Homo sapiens: one gene and its partner. The protein of the gene in region 2 purifies or fractionates together with the protein of the main gene of each other region. This does not show direct contact. Each region holds a gene or a part of one and is shown on either strand. Other genes may lie near its edges. The genes, in order: CDH2 and DDR2.

Evidence for each region.
Region 1: the proteins of DDR2 (region 2) and CDH2 purify together in Homo sapiens (affinity purification with western blotting; 2 studies listed by BioGRID and IntAct, with this or other methods). This does not show direct contact.

The regions. Positions count from the first base shown.
Region 1 is NC_000018.10:27,981,133-27,992,324, forward strand, and holds part of CDH2 (cadherin-2 isoform 1 preproprotein), read right to left. Parts: intron 9,219-11,192; coding exon 8,965-9,218; intron 7,535-8,964; coding exon 7,392-7,534; intron 4,630-7,391; coding exon 4,396-4,629; intron 4,102-4,395; coding exon 3,868-4,101; intron 1,952-3,867; coding exon 1,812-1,951; intron 1-1,811. UniProt on the Homo sapiens protein: Calcium-dependent cell adhesion protein; preferentially mediates homotypic cell-cell adhesion by dimerization with a CDH2 chain from another cell. Cadherins may thus contribute to the sorting of heterogeneous cell types.
Region 2 is NC_000001.11:162,753,844-162,765,035, reverse strand, and holds part of DDR2 (discoidin domain-containing receptor 2 precursor), read right to left. Parts: intron 10,413-11,192; coding exon 10,181-10,412; intron 9,881-10,180; coding exon 9,733-9,880; intron 9,373-9,732; coding exon 9,267-9,372; intron 5,241-9,266; coding exon 5,057-5,240; intron 3,826-5,056; coding exon 3,582-3,825; intron 1-3,581. UniProt on the Homo sapiens protein: Tyrosine kinase involved in the regulation of tissues remodeling. It functions as a cell surface receptor for fibrillar collagen and regulates cell differentiation, remodeling of the extracellular matrix, cell migration and cell proliferation.

The DNA of each region.
Region 1 (11,192 bases), on a different chromosome or scaffold from region 2:
CCAGTTACTACCGGTGGTCTTACAGTTATTACTACTTTTACTGAAGCCTAATTGAGCTGGGTTTTAGGTTTATGCCTTTGTAAAGTATGCAAAATTACACAAAAAATAAAATACTGGAAGTAGACGATTTATGAGAGAATGTGATCAATATGTTTGTTGATCTTGAAAATAGCCTAGGAAAGTGAAAGGATAGATTAATTAAAGAATTAAGCCAAACATGAATTTTAATATTCAGAGACATTTATAAGCAAAACACCCTAAGGTATATTTATAGAGCCACTTTAATTAGGCAGTATTCAAAACAGCTTTACACATGAGTCAAGTTTTCAACGTACTTTAAATATGCATCTCTTCTAAATGAGAGAGCTGGGGTATTGTAAACCAAGCATGGAACCTGGAATCAGAACATGAGGCCTTGAGTCCTGGCTCTGTGGGTTACAAACTCTGAAAGTAAATCATGCAACTTTTTTCAAATGTAAAATGGAAAACTCTAAGGGGCTGCCACAAAGTTTATACAATAATGGATGTAAATGTGCTTTGTAAAATGAAAAGTGATATATCATTTCCTCAAAGGAGTGAAGCAAGGGAAAAATATGTTCATGAAAATTTGCTTTTATTCAATTAGCAGGCTTATCAATAATATCTGCATATATACTTAAGAGAGTACATTTTAACTTACTGATACTGATGCAAAACCAAAGAATCCTGGGTTCTCTTTCAGACTGTTATCCCCGACATTTGCATTAGCCAGTAGAAATCAGATAACTATCAAATGTATCTAAGAATTACCTGTCATAGTGATTTCTCATGGATTACATTAATATCGCCCATATAATTTCAAGAGAAACTGTATCAGAATAGTTTAGCCTGTGAATTCAGAGAAACCTGAATGCAAACTCTGCATCTATTACTTCCTAAGTGCATGATTTTGTAGAATCTAACCATCCTTAACTTGGTTTTATACCACAAAAGTGGAGATGTTCACAGTACTAGTATCACAAGTTTCAAGGATTTAAGAGAGAGCAGCACCTAATGTACTTAACAGAATGCCTGACATGTAGTATAGAGCTTACAGATGTTTGCTATGATAACATTGAAAATGTTGCTTCAGAGCAGATGGAGATTTTTGTTTTCCATTTATGGTCATTCTCATCCTTGAAGAGGTATGCAATCCCATACGCACATAGTGATATAGGTTCACATTAGTTAATGGCCAGAAGGAGATTCTGACATCTATTGAATAACCACCTCAAGCCAGGAACTATGACAGACACTATAAATACAAAGATGAACTAGATGTTAACTCTAACTTCAAATATTTCACAAGAATGTAAGACTCTTAAGGATAGATATTTGTTAACTCTGCCCATGGAGGTATCTTCAGGGATTAAAATAGTGCCTGAAATATTGGATTTCCTTGGTAAATACTTGGGGAATAAATAGTCTTAGTGGTTTTTCTACCATACATATAATTATCCAGATCCCAAAGTAGAAGATGCTTTTAATATATTTTGGATATCCAGTGAAGAGAAACTGTAAAGTATATTTATCATTACACAGATATAACTAGAATTGGGTTTAAAGCCTTTGAAACAAGGTGTTTTTTTTTTTTTTACAAAATAAATACAATGACATTTGGTACTTTGAAAAAAAATTTGAGAAATATTCAACACACATAGGAAACAATTTACCAAATGACTGATAACAGGAGGGAAACCTGATACCATTTTCTTACTGATGTATTAACACTTCCCACTATTAAATTTATACGATCATAAAATTTATTTTTAAAGATTTAAAGCACTGCTCACCTGGTCTTCTTCTCCTCCACCTTCTTCATCATATTTTAAAATATTATCTCTTACATCATCTTCTGGATCAATTAAAAGTTGTTTGGCCTGGCGTTCTTTATCCCGGCGTTTCATCCATACCACAAACATCAGCACAAGGACTAGGTAGAAAAATAGTAAAAATACATAATATTGTCATTTTTAAAGCCTGGCCTATTTAGTCACAGTATTCAGTACTAATAATTTATACTTATATGAACTGAAGGCCTGAAATGCGTCTTTCACTCTACTATCTATTTCTGGCCTCACATTAAGAGAGACAAGACAAAGCAAGCTAAAGCACTGGGTTTAGAGTATGAAGGCCTGGGCTCCCATCCCTGGTGCCCTCTGCAAACTCACTTGAGAGGTGATCATCCTTGTTCTCAGTTTTACCATCCATATATGGGGACAGTAACTTTTTCTATCTTCCCTTTGGCTTGCTAGAGGATAGTTGCCCTTCATAGGGCCTTGTAAATTCTAGAGACACAAAACAGCAGTAAGGTGTTACTTGCTGTGTTATTTCGGTTGGTCAGTCATCATTACACTCCGAAATTCACAGAAGAAAACACTTATCCAGGAGGACAAAGCTTGCCCAGATGACCTGGGTAGTAAATTGGAACTAAGTCAGGAATCAGATCTTGAGGTTTTGACTCCCAGAGGCCGGTGCATGTTTCAGCTAAGAAAGCTAGGGGATTCCTTTGAACACTGAAATAATATTAGACTTTCATGTTTTACACTTTGCGCCAGGTCTAGAACCATAAATTTTCCAGTGAGTTGATGTTAAAATCAGCACCAATTCAGTTTCCTTCAAAATGTCAGTTACTTCTTCATTGCCATAATCCATCATGCCTAAGTCTTTCTTGATAACATTGGCATCTATGCCACATTTCAGTTGAAATGGAAACATATCCCTAGGTGCACATCTAGGAACAAATTCTATCTAAAATCTGGGGGTATCAGTTTACATCCTGAAGCAAAAGATTTAATGACTCCTATTGGAGCACATTTTTATTATTGGCCATAAAAGTAAATATCCTCCTTTTAAAGCCAGATAACATGATCTCATTTGCTATTGTTCCAGGGCTAAATCTAGCAAGTGGATTATTAGTATAGCATGCAGGTTTCAAATTATAGCCAAAGTAGTCTCCACACAGGAAGTAAAAAATGCTTAGACTTCTATAGTAATTGCTTAGAATAAAGGGACAGAATTCTAAATTACCAGAACACTTGTAAATGGAGAAAACATAAAAGAAATGGCCAACATTTTCAAGAAAGTGATTGGTGCATAGCATGATCGCACAATAAACTAAGTCCTGCTGCTATTCACAATAAAACACAGGGCCCAGGCAATTTATTCTTTTAACCTGCATGCTTAGAAGTGGTTCCTAAAGTACTTTCCAGTGGTTAATTTTTTGCATTCCATTGAACCAAAGATTGCAAAGTACCTTAAAAAGAAGCAATTCCTTAATCTACACTTACTCTAAAGACAGACAATCTACTGAGCTGTGTAATCATTTCTATTATCAAATGTCCTGTATGTGAAGTACAATCTCTCACTCTTCTACACAGCCCTTCAGAAACAAATACCTTGATCCTCGCATGACTGGAGCACGTTGCTGACTGTGCTTTATATGAAGGAAGGTGAAGGAAAGCAATATACTTATTTTCCTAAATCATCAACTACGTGCCATAAATTCATACTCAAATCATAAGAAAAGTGCTCAAACTTGGGATTGTTTAATGTTTTTCTATGAAAAGCGTTTACTACAGCTCCCTAAGCAATAAGCATGAGAAAGGGTAAGAGGGCAAGGAAGAGGCATGCTGAGGCAGCTTGTTGCAAACATCAAGTGCTTGAAACAATGCTCTGGGGTTTTTTCATTCTAAAGTGGACTTGGTCGACCCATATATGATTGGCGAGGAAATGCTGAAAGGTCAAAGGGTTGTTAGACTACTTTGCCAGGCAATAGCAACACATGACTTTGCTGAACATCCTAGAAGCCAAGAGAACTGAAATCTAAAAGACAATAAAAGTACTCACTAAGCAGGATGATGATGCAGAGCAGGATGGCAATGATGGCACCGGTGCCAAGCCCCGCACCCACAATCCTGTCCACATCTGTGCAGTCCCCGTTGGAGTCACACTGGCAAACCTTCACACGCAGGATGGAAATATTTGATTTGGGAGGATTACCCGAATCTGTGATTATGATGGGAACTTCATAGATACCAGCTTCAAGAAATTTTATCTTTAAATTAAGCTGAGCAAAATCACCTATATGAAAAAGGAAAAACATAGTTTGATAGGTAATACTTAAAGCGATAAAAAAACACATAGCATTGTTCAGGATGTATTTACTACCTAATAGTACACATAAAGCGGATTACAACTATGCTGCATTCTAAATACTTTTTTGGCCGTAAAGGCCTTTAATATCTTACTTAAACTTTAAGTAGCTTTTAAAATATGTATAATGAGAAGATTATGAAGCACATAAAATTAACTTTTCATGCCAGGCTTCAAAATCTCTCAACTGCACATATATTCAAATAATTAACCTGTTCTTACCATTAAGCCGAGTGATGGTCCAATTTCTCTTAATAGTCACTGGAGATAAAGGAAGATCAAAAGCAAATGGTCCAGCATTTGGATCAATGTCATAATCAAGTGCTGTAATATTAATTGAATTGGGGTCTGGAGTTTCGCAAGTCTCTGCCTCTTGAGGTAACACTTGAGGGGCATTGTCATTAATATCAAGTAAATAGATCTGCAGCGTTCCTGTTCCACTCATAGGAGGAATTCCTGAAAAGAGAGAAAAATCACAAATGATGCTGAACAGTTCTCTCCAATGAGCCTCAATTATGGTGAAATTCTCAAAGCTTCTAACCTTCTGGCCCTTTTAACTGTGTAACCTTGGAAAAACATAGTTGCTATGGCATCTGGGCAGACCGTTTCCAGAACAAAGCCCCTTCTTGCTTCCCTGCTAGAATGACCCTGAGCTGCCACTGCTGCTCTGCAGGAGCTGAGCAAGGTGACGAAGAATGCCCCTGTGATGGAATCCCGTACCCTCCCTGCCCCTCCTGCCCATTATTCAGGGCTTGCGTAGACCATGCTCCTCCAGGCACTGTGAGGAGTGTTGGAGATGCAAACACAGGGCTCGTGATCCTGTTGACACTATTCTTTTTATGGAGAACCAAGACATATGCATGAAAGAACATAAGAATGCTTTTAACGCTCTAACACAGCTTTGACTTAACGCAACAGTCTACAGACAAGTGATACAGAACCACAGACCTCAACTCAGGAAGGAACATCATGCAGAAGAGAAATGATATTTACTAACCAACCAACTACCTGCTTGAGATCATATTAGGCTGCTCTATGTACACTCTTTGATTGTAATCCTATGACACAGGTTTACACAGATGAACCTGAGTCTGTAAACTGCTCATGGCCACACACTCTTGTAAGTGGTGGAGTTGCTACTAAATATTGGTCGGCCTGACCTCAAACCCATTCTCATTCCACTATAATAAAATGCTGTCTCCACCACTTTGTGTGATAATTTAATCTGGTGATTTGCTTCTGCTACATTGTAAATATTCACACACACACAAATATATAATATGTTTATGAATATTTTATAAATAATGCTGTACACTGAAGACCAGAGACTTAAGCGACCTGCCAAAGGTCATGCAACTAGGAAGGTGCACATACATACACAATCCTGGGGAGGGAATAAGGAGGAATGTTTACCAACTTCTATGAGGAATATGATGGTTCTAAGAGCAGGGAGAGTTGAACTGGAAGGGTATAGTGGCTGTTACAATATTCCAACACCACCATGACCACTATGATACTCAACAGTTTGAGGGACTTCGAAATTTACTATCACATTTAATATTACTATACTTTTATAACAACTATATAGAATATGTAGGTAGTGAAACAATTTATCAATAATGAAACTAAGGCATACAGAGTATAAGAGCTTGACTAATCATTAACGAACAGAGCTGGGGCTCCAAGTCTAGCCTTGTGGCTTAAAGGAAAGTGCAATTGCAAAGCATCACAGCTACATACATTATAACAGGTCACTTCTCTCTCTTATCAAAAGCCCTTTCAATTAGAAAACAATCCTTCCTGGTGAATGAGAAATCTGGTTGTAACTCACAACCAATATACATACATACATACATACATATAATTTTATGGCTCTTTAGATCTTAACATAATGATTCAAGATGCATTACTTTCAGTACCACTGTAGAAGAAAGCCACGGTTTATGGCAAAAAAGCATAAAACAGGTACTAATGACATGCTTTGATGTACAATGGCAAAAGCTATTCCTACAAAGTTCCAACACTAAATATTTAAACAAGAGGTCCCATATTAAAAAGGATAAGAAATATTTCTTTGGTTGGTCACTACATAGATTTTCTACAGATAGTAATCTCATTAAATCTTAGTATACAGATTTAGAAAGGTTCACTGACATTATTCTTAAAGTATTGATATGTCTTATTTTAGTAATGCAAAATATTTTACAATTTGAAAATTGCAAACACCAACTTCAACCACCAAATTGAAGCCTGCTATTTTTTATTAAGTACCAACATTCATATTCATAGTTTAATACTGAAAATATTTTAAAATATAGTTGTGGTTCAGTTTTGAAACTATTAATACGCAATAGGAATACTTAGTTGAGTGGTTAGTTCGTGTCAGCCACTGTTTCAAATGCTTCATATATATGTAGAAGTCATTACATTTTAGTTAAAACACTGAGTTAGGTGCTGATACGTATCTATTTAACAAAAAAAGGAAACAGATATATTTAAAACCTCATGGCAATCCCACAGATTCAAAGTGGGAAAGCCGGAGTCTGCACCTGGGGGTCCTGTAGAACTCCAGAGCTTGAAGTCTGAAACACACATCGTACTGAGAGCTAACGAAGCAAAATAAGCCCCTCATCAGGTTTACAAAAGTCCCCTTTATATTACATATCTGAAAAAAGTCCTTATCTATTAATCTTAACCAATGAGAAACCAGCAGAGACTCAGAAAGGAAAAAAAGGTGCTACATATGTATTCTAAAACCCATACCCTGAAGCTCACTACTCACTTATCTCAATTTATGCACAAAATTAAGTTTCCTAGCCCATGGCAGACAGAGGCAGAGAATTATAAAAAGGAAGACTGATAGAGATGCACATATGAAAGGCAACAGAGTGACTAGAAGACATATAAAAAGAGCCACTGAAAAAACCCAGTGTCTAGGGCCACTGAGGATGGACTTAAGGCATCAACATGTGACAGGACAATAAGATAACAAAGGTATGTCTACATGAACGATGGATGGACATCGAGAACAGTCATTGCAAAGACAGTGAAGGATGTTCCAGAACACCTGTCTGAAATGATAAATAAAAGCTGGACCTCGGAATTATAAAAGTCAGTTTTCCAGGCAATTGAGTTTTGTAGAAAACTTTAATTCCTGAGCATGCATGATGAGGATCTACTGTCTTTCATCAACATACAAGAAAAAACAGCGAACATACCATTGTCAGAAGCAAGGAAAGTAGCATTATATATATTGTTTTTCACATTTGGTGATTCTCGGTCCAAAACAGCAATTGTAGTTATTTGTCCATTCACAGGATCTATTTTTAGCCAATTGGCAGGATCAGATAATTTAGTGTATCTACAAAATGAAAGTGAAGTTTAATTTCTTTTTATGAAACTTTAAAAAAACATATTTTACAGGTTTAGTTCCAAATGCAACTGGCTCATTAACTTGCATTTCTGTAGATGATGGCTGGACATACAGCTTTAACAGGAAAAAGTATTTTTGTGACAGTGGTATTGGGAGGCACATAAAGGTTGTGTTTGGTCAGGCATGTAGGAAACATTCTACAGGTGTCTGAGGGACAAGACTAGGTGCACAGTCTCCCTAATGTGGGCTAAAGCAGATTGGAAAGTTATCATTTTAGGTTCTTGTCCACTTCAACAGATATCAATGGTTCAGGTAAAATAGCTTGAATATAGTTTCTAGATAAGCAGTAGTCTCAATGTACAGGAGTTAAGAGAAATTATAATAGAAATTGAATACTGCATCACAGAACACTCCTAAAACATTTTAACACTTTATCATGGCCAACATGAAGCCACACTGGAGAGACCACCATAATCCCATTCCTACTTGAATCTTTCACACTGGGCCAAGCCTCAGATCTATACCTTTGCAAAGAAAGTCCTACAGTCTTGAGTCTGAATTGGCAGATTTATCAGCTTAAATTCCTTTTTAAAATTTGGAGTGGGGATTAACTTTTAAAGATTAGATAACCAGTTGGATTGGAAAAGGTATGCTATGTTTGGAAAGGTACAAGTTGTAGGATTTCAATACATCTATTAACTGGCTATTTATTAATAGTTATCTTGATTTCAGTGAATAGAGAAATGGAGAACATTTAACATTTAATAAAAGATAACAATAGAAAGTTATCTTTTAGCAGCAGTTCTGTAAGAAGTTTAATGAAATATAAGTTCATTTTAAAAATGATCATCACCAGCTTTGGAGAACAGTCGCATGGGGTGTGCTCTGGCAACCATCCACTCCCTCATCAGAAAGGATAAATTACATTTTGCTGAGTTTGGAAATCTTTACAGATAGGTTTCATAAGTCCAATAACTACTGTACAGGTAAGGAATGAAAATAATTAACTCTTAGATCCTGGTTTTGGCATAAGCTTTCTTTCCTTCATGATGCATGGAGGAGAGATAAATGTTATAAGCCTCTGAAAGTTCCCTGCGGAACCTTTTTGTGATGTTTGGCATAAAGGCACAGGCTAAATAATTTTAAAGTATTTTTTAAGTAAAAATGGCAGATACAGAGAAACAAGAACAGCTTTTTCTTCAAATAGTAAATCCATTTTAATATGGATACAGATATCTATTTATATCTAATATAGTCATTGACTTACTGAGAAGAAAATTCAAAGAATTTTAAATTATCTTTTAATAAGTAGTTTTGATTGCAATGAAAATTTCTACTCAAATAGTGAATTAGATAAATTTTATGCACAGCATAGAACATAAGTAAGCTACAAAAACACTACAAACAGCATTTCATACCTAATATTTTGCTGCATATATCGATCTGGGTCCTGAGCAGTGAATGTTGTCAACATGGTACCGGCATGAAGCCCTTCTTCTTGGCGAATGATCTTAGGATTGGGGGCAAAATAAGGGTTTTCATTTACGTCAATAACTGTAACAGACACGGTTGCAGTTGACTGAGGGGGGTGCTGAATTCCCTTGGCTAATGGCACTTGATTTTCTGCAGCAACAGTAAGGACAAACATCCTATTTGTTTCAAAGTCGATTGGCTGGAAAATAAAAGGGAAGCCATATTTTTGCAGGAAATAAGAATGCTTGCATTCTGTAGTTTATTCCTCTATCAACTCCATTTCCAAAAAATTAATTTCTTCATTCACTACATAACAAGGTTCCTCTCAAGTTTCTGGAAAACATGCATTAGCATGGTCACTTATCAAAATATTTATCCCAATTTAACCTAATTATAAATCTTGAGTACTTAAAAGATTTATGTTCACAAAACAGTGCACATGATTACTGCACAGATTTATTTATTTAGGTACATCTAAAAACTTGATTATTCTTAAGAATAGCATTGTTGACTAAAAATACTAAATAATATAAAGTCAAGTGAGAACATGATGGTCTAAATGTATACTCTCAAACATTAGTACAAAGATCACTCCTCACCCAGGAAAGCTTTCACCAGTCTATGATGAATTGAAGAAAACAAACCAAAAATCAGAAAATGTAATTTTTAAATACAGCTAAACTTATTTGATTTAAAAGTACCTTTCATAATTTGAAGTACACATTTTGCAGTACAAACATGTATACATAATCGCACACACACCTTTTAAAAATAATACTGTTGGTAGGTGGAAGATATTTTTCTTTTCCTCTTAGCAAACTAAAACTCTGCTGTCTTCTGGAATATTTCTGGATATTTTATTGGTCTGTAAAACCCCCAAATTTAAGAAAAACACTCTAGATAAATGCAATGCACAAATAACCCTTCATGTAAATACTAACTTCCAAAGTTCACTGAATCTTGCTGTCACTAGAAATATTACCAGGAGTCAAATGACTAGACTGGACATTCACTCTTAATTTTCCTTGTTCACCTGCGAATGGATGTGCAAATAAGCATTACTGTGCAGTAATAACAGGAAAAACAAGAGCATTAAGATCTCTTAGGCTCATAATTGGTAGCCTAAGAATGATCGAGAGGTGACGCTCATAAGAAAGCTTCATTATCAGCAGAAACTGCACCAGTTTCGTACCCTAGACCACCTTTTAAAAATCTTCAAACACATCTTTTTTTCTCTCTAAATCCCCAATTCAACATTCCTTTCTCTAGTATTTTAAGCAAGACAGAAAAAAAGCCAGAAAGTTAAGACTGCAATATTTAGAGTGATTTCACTAGCCACACGAAACCTTCCCCTGATGTAACATTTATGCTAAGGGGTATATGCACAGTTCAAAGTCCTTTAATGTGTATGAAGCTCATTTATCTCTCAGAACACTATGACTAACATACTGTTATCAGCCCCTTTCTGCATAAGAAACCTAGAATTTACAGTGGTTAAATAGTTGGCCATGATCACACAGATATCAGGAGCAGAGCTGGGACTCTAACACAGACAGCAGACTCAAGTTGGTGCTTTTGATCACTATGTTCCTTCTGAGAGTTTCCATTCCCATTCTATTCTACTCCCGCATCTGCATAATTATTGGCAACTGGCACTTTAGCACATCTTTCTATGTAAGGTCAATATTTAGGTTCACTTACAAATCAAGAGTGCTTAAGTGGGAGGCAAAGAAGTAAATCTCTTTACTGGGTGGCTAAAAGGAAGGGATGTTCACTTTAACAGGCTTTTCCATTATAGCTACGCATTTATTATTCTTGAAGAACATCCCCTTGGCTTCTAGCATGCAACTGTTTTGTTTGGTTCCTTTTTGACCATAAGATCAGAAGAATACATTTCTTAACGTCTCGGAAATAGCATTTAAAAACAGCCATGCAAATGCAAGAGCTTTCTAAAATGCAGGCTTTCTTCTTGCCTACTCATTACATTTTTCTTCTATGGCTTTTCTGGTTTGTTCACTATCTGCCAATATTCTAATAGCTGTAGACATGAAAATAGCAGCTGTGAGGCATCATTCTTAATAGCTATCAATGGTGATCAAAATTTCAGAATGTGATATATCATGAATATATCAACTACACTAACAGTTAATGTTGTTCAGGCCAGTCCTATCCT
Region 2 (11,192 bases):
ATGAAACAATCAATCAACTTACTCTTAGATTAAATCATTAGCACAGAAGGCATTTAAACACCAAACCTGTTTTCCTAAAAATATGCTCTATTTTCTTATCAGTACATCTTAATAAGCAAACCATCTTGAAATTTTTTTCCCTTAAAAATCAAATCTGAAAGGATGGGTTCTTCTGATTTATTTTTCTTTTCTTTCTTTTTTTTTTTTTTTAAACAGGGTCTCACTCTGTCACCCAGGCTGGAGTGCAGTGGTGCAATCTCGACCCACTGCAAGCTCTGCCTCCAGGGCTCAGGTGATCCTCCCACCTCAGCCTCCCAAGTAGCTGGGACTGCAAGCACGTGCCACCACACCCAGCTAATTTTTGTGTTTTTTATAGAGACAGGATTTCGCCATGTTGCCTAGGCTAGTCTCAAACTCTTGAATACAAGCAATCCTCCTGCCTTGGCCTCCCAAAGTGTGGTTTATCTTTAAATTAGTCTCTTCCTCTCTTTTATGTTATTTTACACCTGGACTTTTCTTCCAGGCCCAGTACAAGTCTCATTCCTTTGATGCTGTCTATGACAAACCCACGCTAGTGCCTCTCTCCTCCTGACCATTTATTGTTCATATTGCTTTGGACATTTCTTTTTTTTTTTTTTTTTTTAAAGCATTCTGTATCTTTCATCTTCCCATTTAAATTTAATGGTATGAACAATGTTCTAAACACCTTTTAACTTTTCAAGATTTGGCACAGTTTCTGGCTGTAGTAAGTTAAATCACTATTTGCTGCAGTTACTGTTCAATCAAAAGTAGTGTTTAAAGTTTAAAAGGAATCCCTAAAGGTTGAAACAAATGGAATACAATGAACCTAACTGTATATCACATTGGTGACATAACTACATACAGAAAAGAATTATCCCACTGTTACCCTAACTGTATACCACACTGGTGATATAACTATATACAGAAAAGAATTATCCCACTGTTACCCAACTGACCTTAGAACATAGTGCTTTGACTGCACATTCTTAGTAGGATATATTCTCAGGACAAAGAAAAGAGAATTGCTAAGAAATCTTAATGTTCAATAGTTACGTTGCTAGTAATAATATTGGTATTGCTTTTTGAATAATAGGATGAAGAAAATGCTGTTAACATTGTTAGGAAACATGATATTTAGCATAAATAATAGAGATGAACGTATAAAATCAACTTTAAATAAAAACCTTATCTTTAATTTGAATTGGAAGTAACAATGTAAACTCACAATCTTTCTTTTTAAATATACATATTTCATTGCTTTCTTCCACCGAAAAATCCAAGAAACAATGACAACCTATTAGTAATGAGCATCCCTACTACCCAGTTTGTGTTTTCTAAATACCATTTCCTACTAAAAGGAATCAAGATTTCTTGAAATGGTTGATTCCACGTCGGGTGCTGTACATGTTCAAAATGAGCTTGAAATACCTTGTTCTTTCGGAAAACAAGAAAGTTATCAAAGGCTTCTAGGGTCAGATCAAAAGAGCAAAGAGCCCCCTTAAAAATGCAAACTCTAGGCTGGGTGCAGTGGCTCACATCTGTAATCCCAGCACTTTGGGAGGCCTAGGCGGCTGGATCGCCTGAGGTTGGGAGTTCGAGACCAGCCTGGCCAGCATGGTGAAACCCCGTCTTTACTAAAAATGCAAAAAAAAAAAAAAAAAAAAAAAAAAAAAAAAAAGCCGGGCGTGGTAGCAGGCACCTGTAATCCCAGCTATTTGGGAAGCTGAGGCAGGAGAATCACTTGAACCTGGGAGGTGGAGGTTGCAATGACTCAAGATAGTACTCCAGCCTGGGCAACAGAGCAAGATACCGTCTCAAAAAAAAAAAAATGCAAACTCTAGTCAAAGACAGCACAACTTGAGTATTAAAAAGAATAATGGCCAGACACGGTGGCTCATGCCTGTAATCCCAGCACTTTGGGAGGCCAAGGCAGGCGGATCACTTGAGGTCAGGAGTTCGAGACCAGCCTGGCCAACATGGCGAAACCCTATCTCTACTAAACATAGAAAAACTAGCCAGGCGCAGTGGCAGGCACCTGTAATCCCAGCTACTTGGGAGGCTGAGGCAGAAGAATCACTCGATCCCGGGAGGCGGGGGTTGCAGTGAGCCAAGATCACACCACTGCATTCCAGCCTGGGTGACAGAGCGAGACTCTGTCTAAAAATAAACATACTACTACTAATAATAATAACTGCAATCGATTAAGCATTAAATTGATAAAAAGCAATGAGTTTATAATGATACCAAAAAAATAAGGGTAAAAACCAAAATTAATTAGACATTATTGAGGGTTGCTACGGTATCAAGTCATTACTCTGAAAATTAACAATTAAAGGGGAAGATAAGTCACGTATGCTGCTCTTTCAATGTGATTTCTGAGTAAACTGGTGCATGATGAAGAATAGTTACTCTATTCGGAAGAAATTCAGCTAAGAAATGCAGAAAAAATAAAAGAATTAGAAAATCGTCATTTAGCAACCCTAGTGAAATAAATAATTCAGACAGTGGTTATTGATGGAGGATAAAACTTAGGGAAAAAGTTCATGAGGAACCAGAAATCAATCTTAGTATCACAAAAAGTGAGAGGATCTAGCATTACATCCCCATGATGAAGTTCAGCATAAAATATACAGCATTACTGAGATATATAGAATGCTTATAAAGAATTCTTGACAAAAATAAATATTGAACTGGAATCAAATTAACCTGTAGATGTAAGCACCAGTCATTAGGAATGACAGAGAACAGAAGCTCAAGTAAAATGACACCACAGAAAGCCATCAGCCAAGCCAGAATCCATTTAAAAAGAAATAAAAATGGAAGGAATTTTTTAGATTAAAAGAGACACAGAGCAAATAGAATAAAGAAACTCACCAACAGATCCTTATTTTGATCCTTATTTGATAAAGTCAACTGAATTAAGACATTGATGGACAGTTAGTCATACTTGAATATGGACAGGATATTGGGTGGTATTAAGAAATTATTTAATAATAAAGGTTGTTAGATGTTATCATGGCATTATACCTATGAAAATGATGCTATTTTCTTAGATGCAGTCCAATTATTTGCTAATGAAATCAAGTAGTATCTCATATTTGCTTTAAAATGCTACAGCCAAAAGGAAGGAATGGGTGAAACAAATATGGCAAAATATCAATGATTAGTAAAGCTGAGTGATGAGTGGTTTATTGTTCTCTTTACTTTTGTGTATATTTAGAAATTTTCATTTAAATATCTCAGTAATGCTTAGGTGTGCTTTTCCTTAACAGCGCACTCGTTAACTACCTTAAATTATATAAAATTTTTAACACACTGTACTCTCATTTAAAAACATTCTTTCTAAGAAGAGTTACGTGCATATTTTGTTCACTTCCATTCTCATCCCATCCCCTCCACAGTTAAAACTAGTCACACAAAGGATTCACCGTATCCGTCAATGAGAAGCTGCCTGTACAATCCCACTCCTCTCAGAGACCTGCTAATGAGAAGTTCTGGGCATGTGCATTCCTCCTTCATCACCTTGCTCCCACTTCCCAAAGAGGACCTGAGCTCCCTACCTGATTGGAAGGTGATCTCACTGAACATCATCCAGGTATCTGCAAAATGGTATTGACACTTGATGGCACTGGCCATTCGGTGGTGGAGAGGCACCGTGACAAACCGAGCACTGGGGTTGACGTCATCCAGGACAAGGGGGAAGGAAATGGCATTAGGTTCCCACTCACTGGCTTCAGAGCGGAAGTAGCACTGTACCTCCTTAAAGATCTTCACACCTTTAGCAAACATGTTGTTGCAGTGGACCTGGTAGAGAAAGAGGCATGTGAGTGATAGGTTGGCCCTGCTAAGGTGCATGGAGACACAGTGCCAGCCAACTCAGTAGTTGCCGTCTACCCTGATTCGAGCTATTCTGAACTGAGGTAAGAGGAAGACTGCCATCCTGCTTCCTCCTAGGTACATTTCAGAGCCAGTCTTCTTCTTTTCACAGGGCTAGGTGAGAAACCCAAAATAGTGTACAATCTAAAACAATTTCATTTTTTTTTTTAGAAATCTCATTTCTAAATGAGAATACACATATTCTCACATATGTGTGTATGTATCTATGTGTATAGATACACACACGAATCAGGGTAGACGGCAACTGCGGCTGAGAGGATTATAGACTCGAGAGAGTTCAAGGCAAGGAAGGGCTGAGAAGATGCTGGTGCAGTCCTCATTTAACAGATGAGAAAACTGCAGTCCAGCAACATGAAGTGAGGTGGCCAAGGGCAGACAGTGCATACAGGTAACCAGGGTTGCAGCCCAGGTTTTATAAGGCCTGACCAACTATCACTGCCACTGTGAGGTTCCTAGAAGGAAAAATTCAGAAGACTGCAGAACACCAACTACATATATATATCTAGTTGTATATGTATATACATATATCTAGTTGTATATGTATATACATATATCTAGTTGTATATGTATATACATATATCTAGTTGTATATGTATATACATATATATAGTTGTATATGTATATACATATATAGTTGTATATGTATATATATAGTTGTATATGTATATATGGTTATATATATGTAGTTGTGTATATATATATATCATTGTGTATATATATATAGTTGTGTGTGTATACACACACACACACACACACACAACTGTGCTGGTAAAAAGATAATCTTTGACCCTAAAAATTTATTTTTTTCACCTGATATTAAAAGAAATTAGAGCATTTTTATGCGTCTTAAAAATCTGTGGGCCCTGGACACTGTGTTATTGGCTTAATGGATATGTCACCTTTAGTGTCAAAACAACAAAAAAAAGAGAGCTCACTGACCTATTCTAACTCCCTTACACACAAATGGAGAATCACGCCCTTAGAGATGAAGTGACTTGTGAAATGCATTTAGCTAGTTAGTAACAGAATATGTCATTGAACTGGCATCAGCCTAGACTTTTTTCTAGCATGCCTTTTCTCTACCACACTATGATTTGTGCCTCCTTAAAGAAGTTCCACCACACCCGACCCCACTGACCTTCATGGTAGTGAAATTCCTGATGCGGTCAAATTCAAACATGATCTCAATGTAGCCATTGGTGGCACTCTCGTTCCGCCAGCCCACATAGTCATAGCCGGGCCACACGTGGTATTCATGGGTCTGGGTGAAATCGTCCAGGCCAGACACACCATCGGTCAATTGGCCTAGCCCTTCTGTCATGCTGCTCAGGCCAGGAGAAGAGGAGGAAAAGGAGAGAGAAATCTGAGTTAACCACACATTCGTGGAAGAGCTTTTACCCGGCATCTTCACTCCAGATTTTGTATGAGCTTATTATCTTGGAATTGAAGGATTGTAAATAATCAGATTTGCATTATAGTATTGACTCGTTTATCTTGCATCAATGGAGAACTAAGAATTTCATATTAGTAATTTTTATAAAATATTTGATGCTTACTCCTTTAGTAGTAAAACTTTTAAACAATGTCTTATTTAATATGAAAAGCTTTCTATAATTTATTGCACCTTGCCTATTCTTATATACTGAATATGTCTTCACATAATGACTTAATATTATCAAATGCATTTGATGAACTAATTCATAGAGTAAATGAGGAAATGGATAAATGCATAGAATGAATGCTACCATACATAGTAGCACTTGCCCCACTATCATATAAATGTTTCCAGAGCTTGGTGCTGACTCTCCTTTAACTACATATTGTCATTGTTCAGTGAATCAATTTCAGAGAATCCAGTCACACTCTCTTCTATTCCACATATCCAACAACCCAGTTTGATATTAAACTAAGGGGGAAAATACAAGCTCTAAATTTAAATAATAATTTCTATTTAATTCTAATTAAATTTGTAGGATACTAGACCCAGGAAGTAAGATGCAAGGATTTCATGAGAATCCCAGGTATTGGATTTAGTTTTGTGTTCTAGCTTAGCAGGCTTTTTTGACTTCTGAGTAAGAGGCTCTGTTTTAAAGGCTGAGTTTTCCAGAAGCCTGACTGCTGGATGGAATATAACTGCATGTATGCTTATTTGACTACTTAGAGAACACGAAGAGGCTCCTTCCTTCTTTTTATGGAGGGACAGAGCAAAAACCATCATGTGGAACTTCTCTTTCCTCAAGCTCTGCATCTCAAGCTCTGGCAGATATGACACAAATTTCCCAAATGACGAGATTGGGATACTCACCCTCAAGCAATAATTGGTGTGACCCTTGAGGTTTAGAGCTAGATCAATAATATGTAAAATTTGTGAATCGCAAAAAATAAAAAAATACTAAGGGTGATTATGCCAGCCTTTTAAAATATATTTAATCATTGAAAATGTTTGGTAAATTATAAAATTTGACTGGCCTTATCCACAGTGACCAGAGCCTGGATCTCCCTTCCAAGGTTTTGCCATCTTTTTCTTCTCTCTACAGATCAGAAAGCTAGGAGAACGTAAGTTTACTTGCAATAAATATATTTCCCATTATCCTCAGAAAAATAAATCCCAGGAAAGTTTTATGAAAAGCAACAGAAATTAAAAGGAATGCCTGTTCAGTTCCCCCTTGGTCAAAATTAAATCAAGTGAAGAAGGGATAAGAAAATAAATGTTCAATATTTATATACTTTAGAGTTATTAAAATCACCAGTAAGCATATATTATTCTTGAAATTGTTTTAAATTTAAAAAGTAACTTTTGCTAATATGACTATTTCCTGAGACTCTGATGTCATCTCTCAGTGGCTGAGAGGATCTCTTCACTCAGCCACCTCCACCAGATATTTCATTACTTCAATTATTAAATGAAAGCCAATGATGTCTACATTTTTGTAATTTTTTTTATCTTTCCCCTGGAGTTAAGAGCCATAATTCCGGCTACCTTCCTTATTTCTCTACTGAATGTCTTCTCAGTCTCACAGACCTACACTCCAAACTAAATCCATCATCATCCCCTACTGAACTAAGTCTTTCTCCTTGGTTTCCCTTTTCCATAAATTATACTTCTCTTCATAGTAATGGAAAATGCTTGGCGCAAGGTAAGCACTCAAAATATATTTGTCGAATAAATAAATGTCATCCCCATTGTTTCAGTCACTTAGACTGTCAAACTTCATCTGACCCTTTTTCTCACCCTACTGTTTTGCCTCATACATCCAATCAGATTTCAAACATCCTAAATGAATATCTTTTCCTCATTCCCCACAGTCACGGTTATGGCCTTGGTCATTAATTCTTTTTACTTGGCAGAACTAAGAGTTTTAAAATGTTCCTCATAGCCTCCTCATTCCATTCCAATCTAACCTTTGCATGCTGCTTGATTAATCTGTCTAAAGCACAGCTCCAATCATGTCCTTCCTCAGCTTTAAAAATCTTCAATGACTCATTACATTAATGATAATGTTTATGAAGAATAAGAACAGCAATTTCTCCTCTTCCTCCTCCTCCACTTCTTGCTCCTTTTGGCTTTGACTTCAGGTTCCTTCAAAATATGGCATAATCTGCTTTGTTTTGCTTCTCCTGCACTACTTTGCCACATAAATATGGCCCGTGGTTAAATAAACTGTTGATTTCTCCCAGACAGTCCCCTAAACTTTATAACCATGATTCTTTTTTCCTCATGCTATTATTCCCTCTGCCTAAAATTCCATTTCAAGATTCTGCACCTGTGAAAGTACTACCCATTCTTTGGGACCCAGTTCAGATTTCATCTGTTCTACCATATCTTTACTGGTCCTTCAGTCAGAAAAATGATAATCAGATAACAACTTATATGTGCATAGCAATTTATCTTACGAAATGCTTTTCACACACATTTTAATCCCTTAAGCCTTGTAGCAAACAGAAGTAACTTTTATTATATGAAATCCAGATGTTTTCATCCCCATTTTTGTGCTTTCCTACTATAGTTTACTTTTTCCTTTGAACCCCAGAGCAGTCATAGGCTATCTCTTGCTCATATACTTGAATCATAGTAACTTATATTCTGTTTTAGCCCCTACTCCAAATTGTGAGCACTTTAAAGGTAGGATCAATGACTCCATTACCTTTGAATACCTAACATGCCTGGCCAAATTCCTTGTATATAGTAACAGTTGATTAACAAAGGCTTATTAAATTAAACTGAATTCGGTTGATCTCTGATTTCCTCTGTGCCTTGAATACATGCCTGTTGGGGTGTGACTGAGCGAAATTATGCCAAGACCGTTTAAGCAAAAAGGAAAGAACAGTGATTAAGAAGATGGAAAGGAAGTGACTAGGAGTAGAAGAGTGGATGAATCAGGTCTTCACCCAGGGGATGGCAGCTAGAGGGCAATAGTTCATTCTCCACACCTAAGCCAGTAGAAGGCTGTAATTCCACACTCCCTTCCTGAGACTCACTAGTATCTCCTTCTCTCGAGCCCTGTCAACCTCCATCATCTGGTCTGGTCTTCACGATGGACTGAATTCTCTCCCAGGCTCACTTTGCAGATGCAGACCAAGCTTAGAGAGAAAAGTGTTAGTGTGGGCTAGAAGAATGGCAAGGCTTAAAGGCTTGAAGTGAAACAGTATAGGTGGGAGCATCCTGTACCCAACCCTAAGTTCCTACTATATCTGGTCACACTTCTTTGCCATGGCACTCCTTTGATCCACTTCAGGCTTATCCATTGTTCCATTCTGTTCTTCTCAACTCCAGCTTCTACTATAGCCAGGTCAGTCTTGCCTTCAGCCCTGCTTCCTTTCTTCTGCTACCTTCTACCTACCTTCCTCTGCTACAATTCTCATCTTAACCTAGAACTTTCCTTGTCTATTGTAAGTCTTACTAGTCCCCTTTTTACAAATTTCAAAGCATTTATATGTATAAGGTCTATTCTTTCTGACTTCTTGACTTGCCCAGAGTATTATACTTATTACTTCAATTCTCTGGCCCTTTGTTTCCATAAGTAGGTCAATATTTGTGTCAGACTACATGTCCTGTTTTGAGGGTCAAAAATATGGCTATTATACTTAGAGCCATATCACAAACTTTAGCCATTACTTTGTGTAATTGATTGTTTTCTGGGTAATTAACTTGTCTTCCCAAACCGGGCTTTAAGTTCCCTGGAAATAAAGGTCATGTGTATTCCTTCATCTAAATTATTTCCAAATGCCTTGTACAAGAACTAAATAAATACTGATTGGTTGATTGATTATTGATCCCAAGACATGATAAAATATTATTCTTTCTTAGTGGCCAATTTCCCATTCTAATAAAGTTTCCCAGGATTTACCTGTATCCAACAGCTCCATCATAGACAGAATCATTCAGATAAATGATGGAACCTCCAGGGAGTACAAACTGCTGCCCAGCTGGAGCATTGTAAGACACCAAGCCATCTGCAAAGGAAACACAGCCAAGTGAGTGCCTACTGCTCAGGCCCATTACCTCAGGGAACTATGTGAGTTTCAAGGGTATAAGCTTGCACAGCGTGTCCAGCAGGACTCCATCTGGACACCGAGGGAAGACTTTGGAGGAGTGCCCCTCCATGGCAGTCAACGTAATGACTCTGAATGCATGACTCAGTGTGGGGCCCTAAGCCCTGGGTTAATGAGCAATGCTTCTGTCTCTATTCTTCCCAAGAGGGCATCACCATTCCAGGAGTAACTGATCCCATCCCTTTCTGATTTGATTGCCTTCATTTCCCAGAAGTTGGAGTTTTTAATAAAGTCTATAGGCTTCCTGGGCTAGTGACCTACCTAGCCAGACACAGCCGTAAAGCTCCACTCTCATACACACATTCATGGAGTGGTCGGTGACTGGAATGAACCGGACAAATCTGGCTACAATGGGCGGCTCCAAGTCCTTTAGGAAAATGTCATAGGGGTTACTATTTCCATCCAGCACCTGAGGAGAGAGAAGAGAATGAGTGAAGAGGTGGTATTAAATCATGCTCACTTTTCTTCACCCCACCACGTTTTTGATGGACTCTCTCTTCTTAATTCGAGGAGCAGAATGCATCTACTCTGCTTTCCCCACAGCCTTGATATTCCTTCCCTGCCTCCCTCACCCTGGGTCACACATTTACAAGGGCATGCCTGGTCTGTGGACACACATATCCACACAGAAAACCTGTACCCTTCTTCTCCTAGCCTAAGTCAAAATATGGTCTTGGACATCCAGGATCTGGATGTCTCTTCTTCCTACCTGTTTCCCATGACGGTTCCGCCAAGAGATCCAGCGAGTGCCATCCCGACTGTAATTGATCTTGTACATGGGGGCAAACTCGATGCCATGACCTCCTGCATGGCGCCCCTGGGTCCCCACCAGAGTGATAAAATGGAGGGTGTGCAAGTCAATCTGCAGAAACTCCTTCAGGTCATCAGGTTCCACTGGAATCTCAGGGCACCAGGCTCCATCCCCTTCTTCTGAGTCCAGCCTTGAGAGGTGAGGGTTGGGGAGAGAGGGAGCAACCATGAAACCACAGAGCTGTTTACTGGTTCACAGGCAAGCAGCTGCCCTGTACTGAGGGGAGAGAGCAGGCTGTCCTTATAAACATTTTGGGTTCTTGCCACAGTTTTCACTGCCACCACAGTACCCATTTGTGGTCAGATCCCTTTCCCTGGAGTACCATGAGACCCTGAAAGACAGTGAGCTGAGGCCTTCAGATCACACATAGCCTTCACTTCCCATCCTGATTTAGAAGCATAAAGAGAAATAAAACTCTTCCTACTCTCTGTTCCCGCATGAGTCATTTCATATTTCCCTTCCCTCTTTCAAACTCAGCCTAACAAAGCTAGCCACCCTTTGCTTGGACATCAAGTTATGGCAATAGGGAGGAGGGATAGTAGGGTCTCCAGTGTGGGTTATGCAATGCAGCAGGATGGGCATTGCAGACCAGCAAGGAGCCATAGAAACACATGGGGAGGATGAGGGGGAAGAGCATGTCAAGGAAGTAGTAAATAATCTGGTTTCATTTTATTACCTTCAGGCTGAGCTACCACTGAGCAAAATTGTGAAATTATTATAAAGTTTACTTTGAGAACTCCCTACCACTTTTCCTCTCCCTTGGATTGCTCCCTTTTCTCACAGATATTACCCATTCATTTGTTGCTCCCTTCCAATTCCACCTACCATCACTCTAGTCTTTCATACACTAAGAAATTAAGGGGAAAGGTTCATCAGGATTCATTTTCTTATGGGTAATTCCATTTTAATA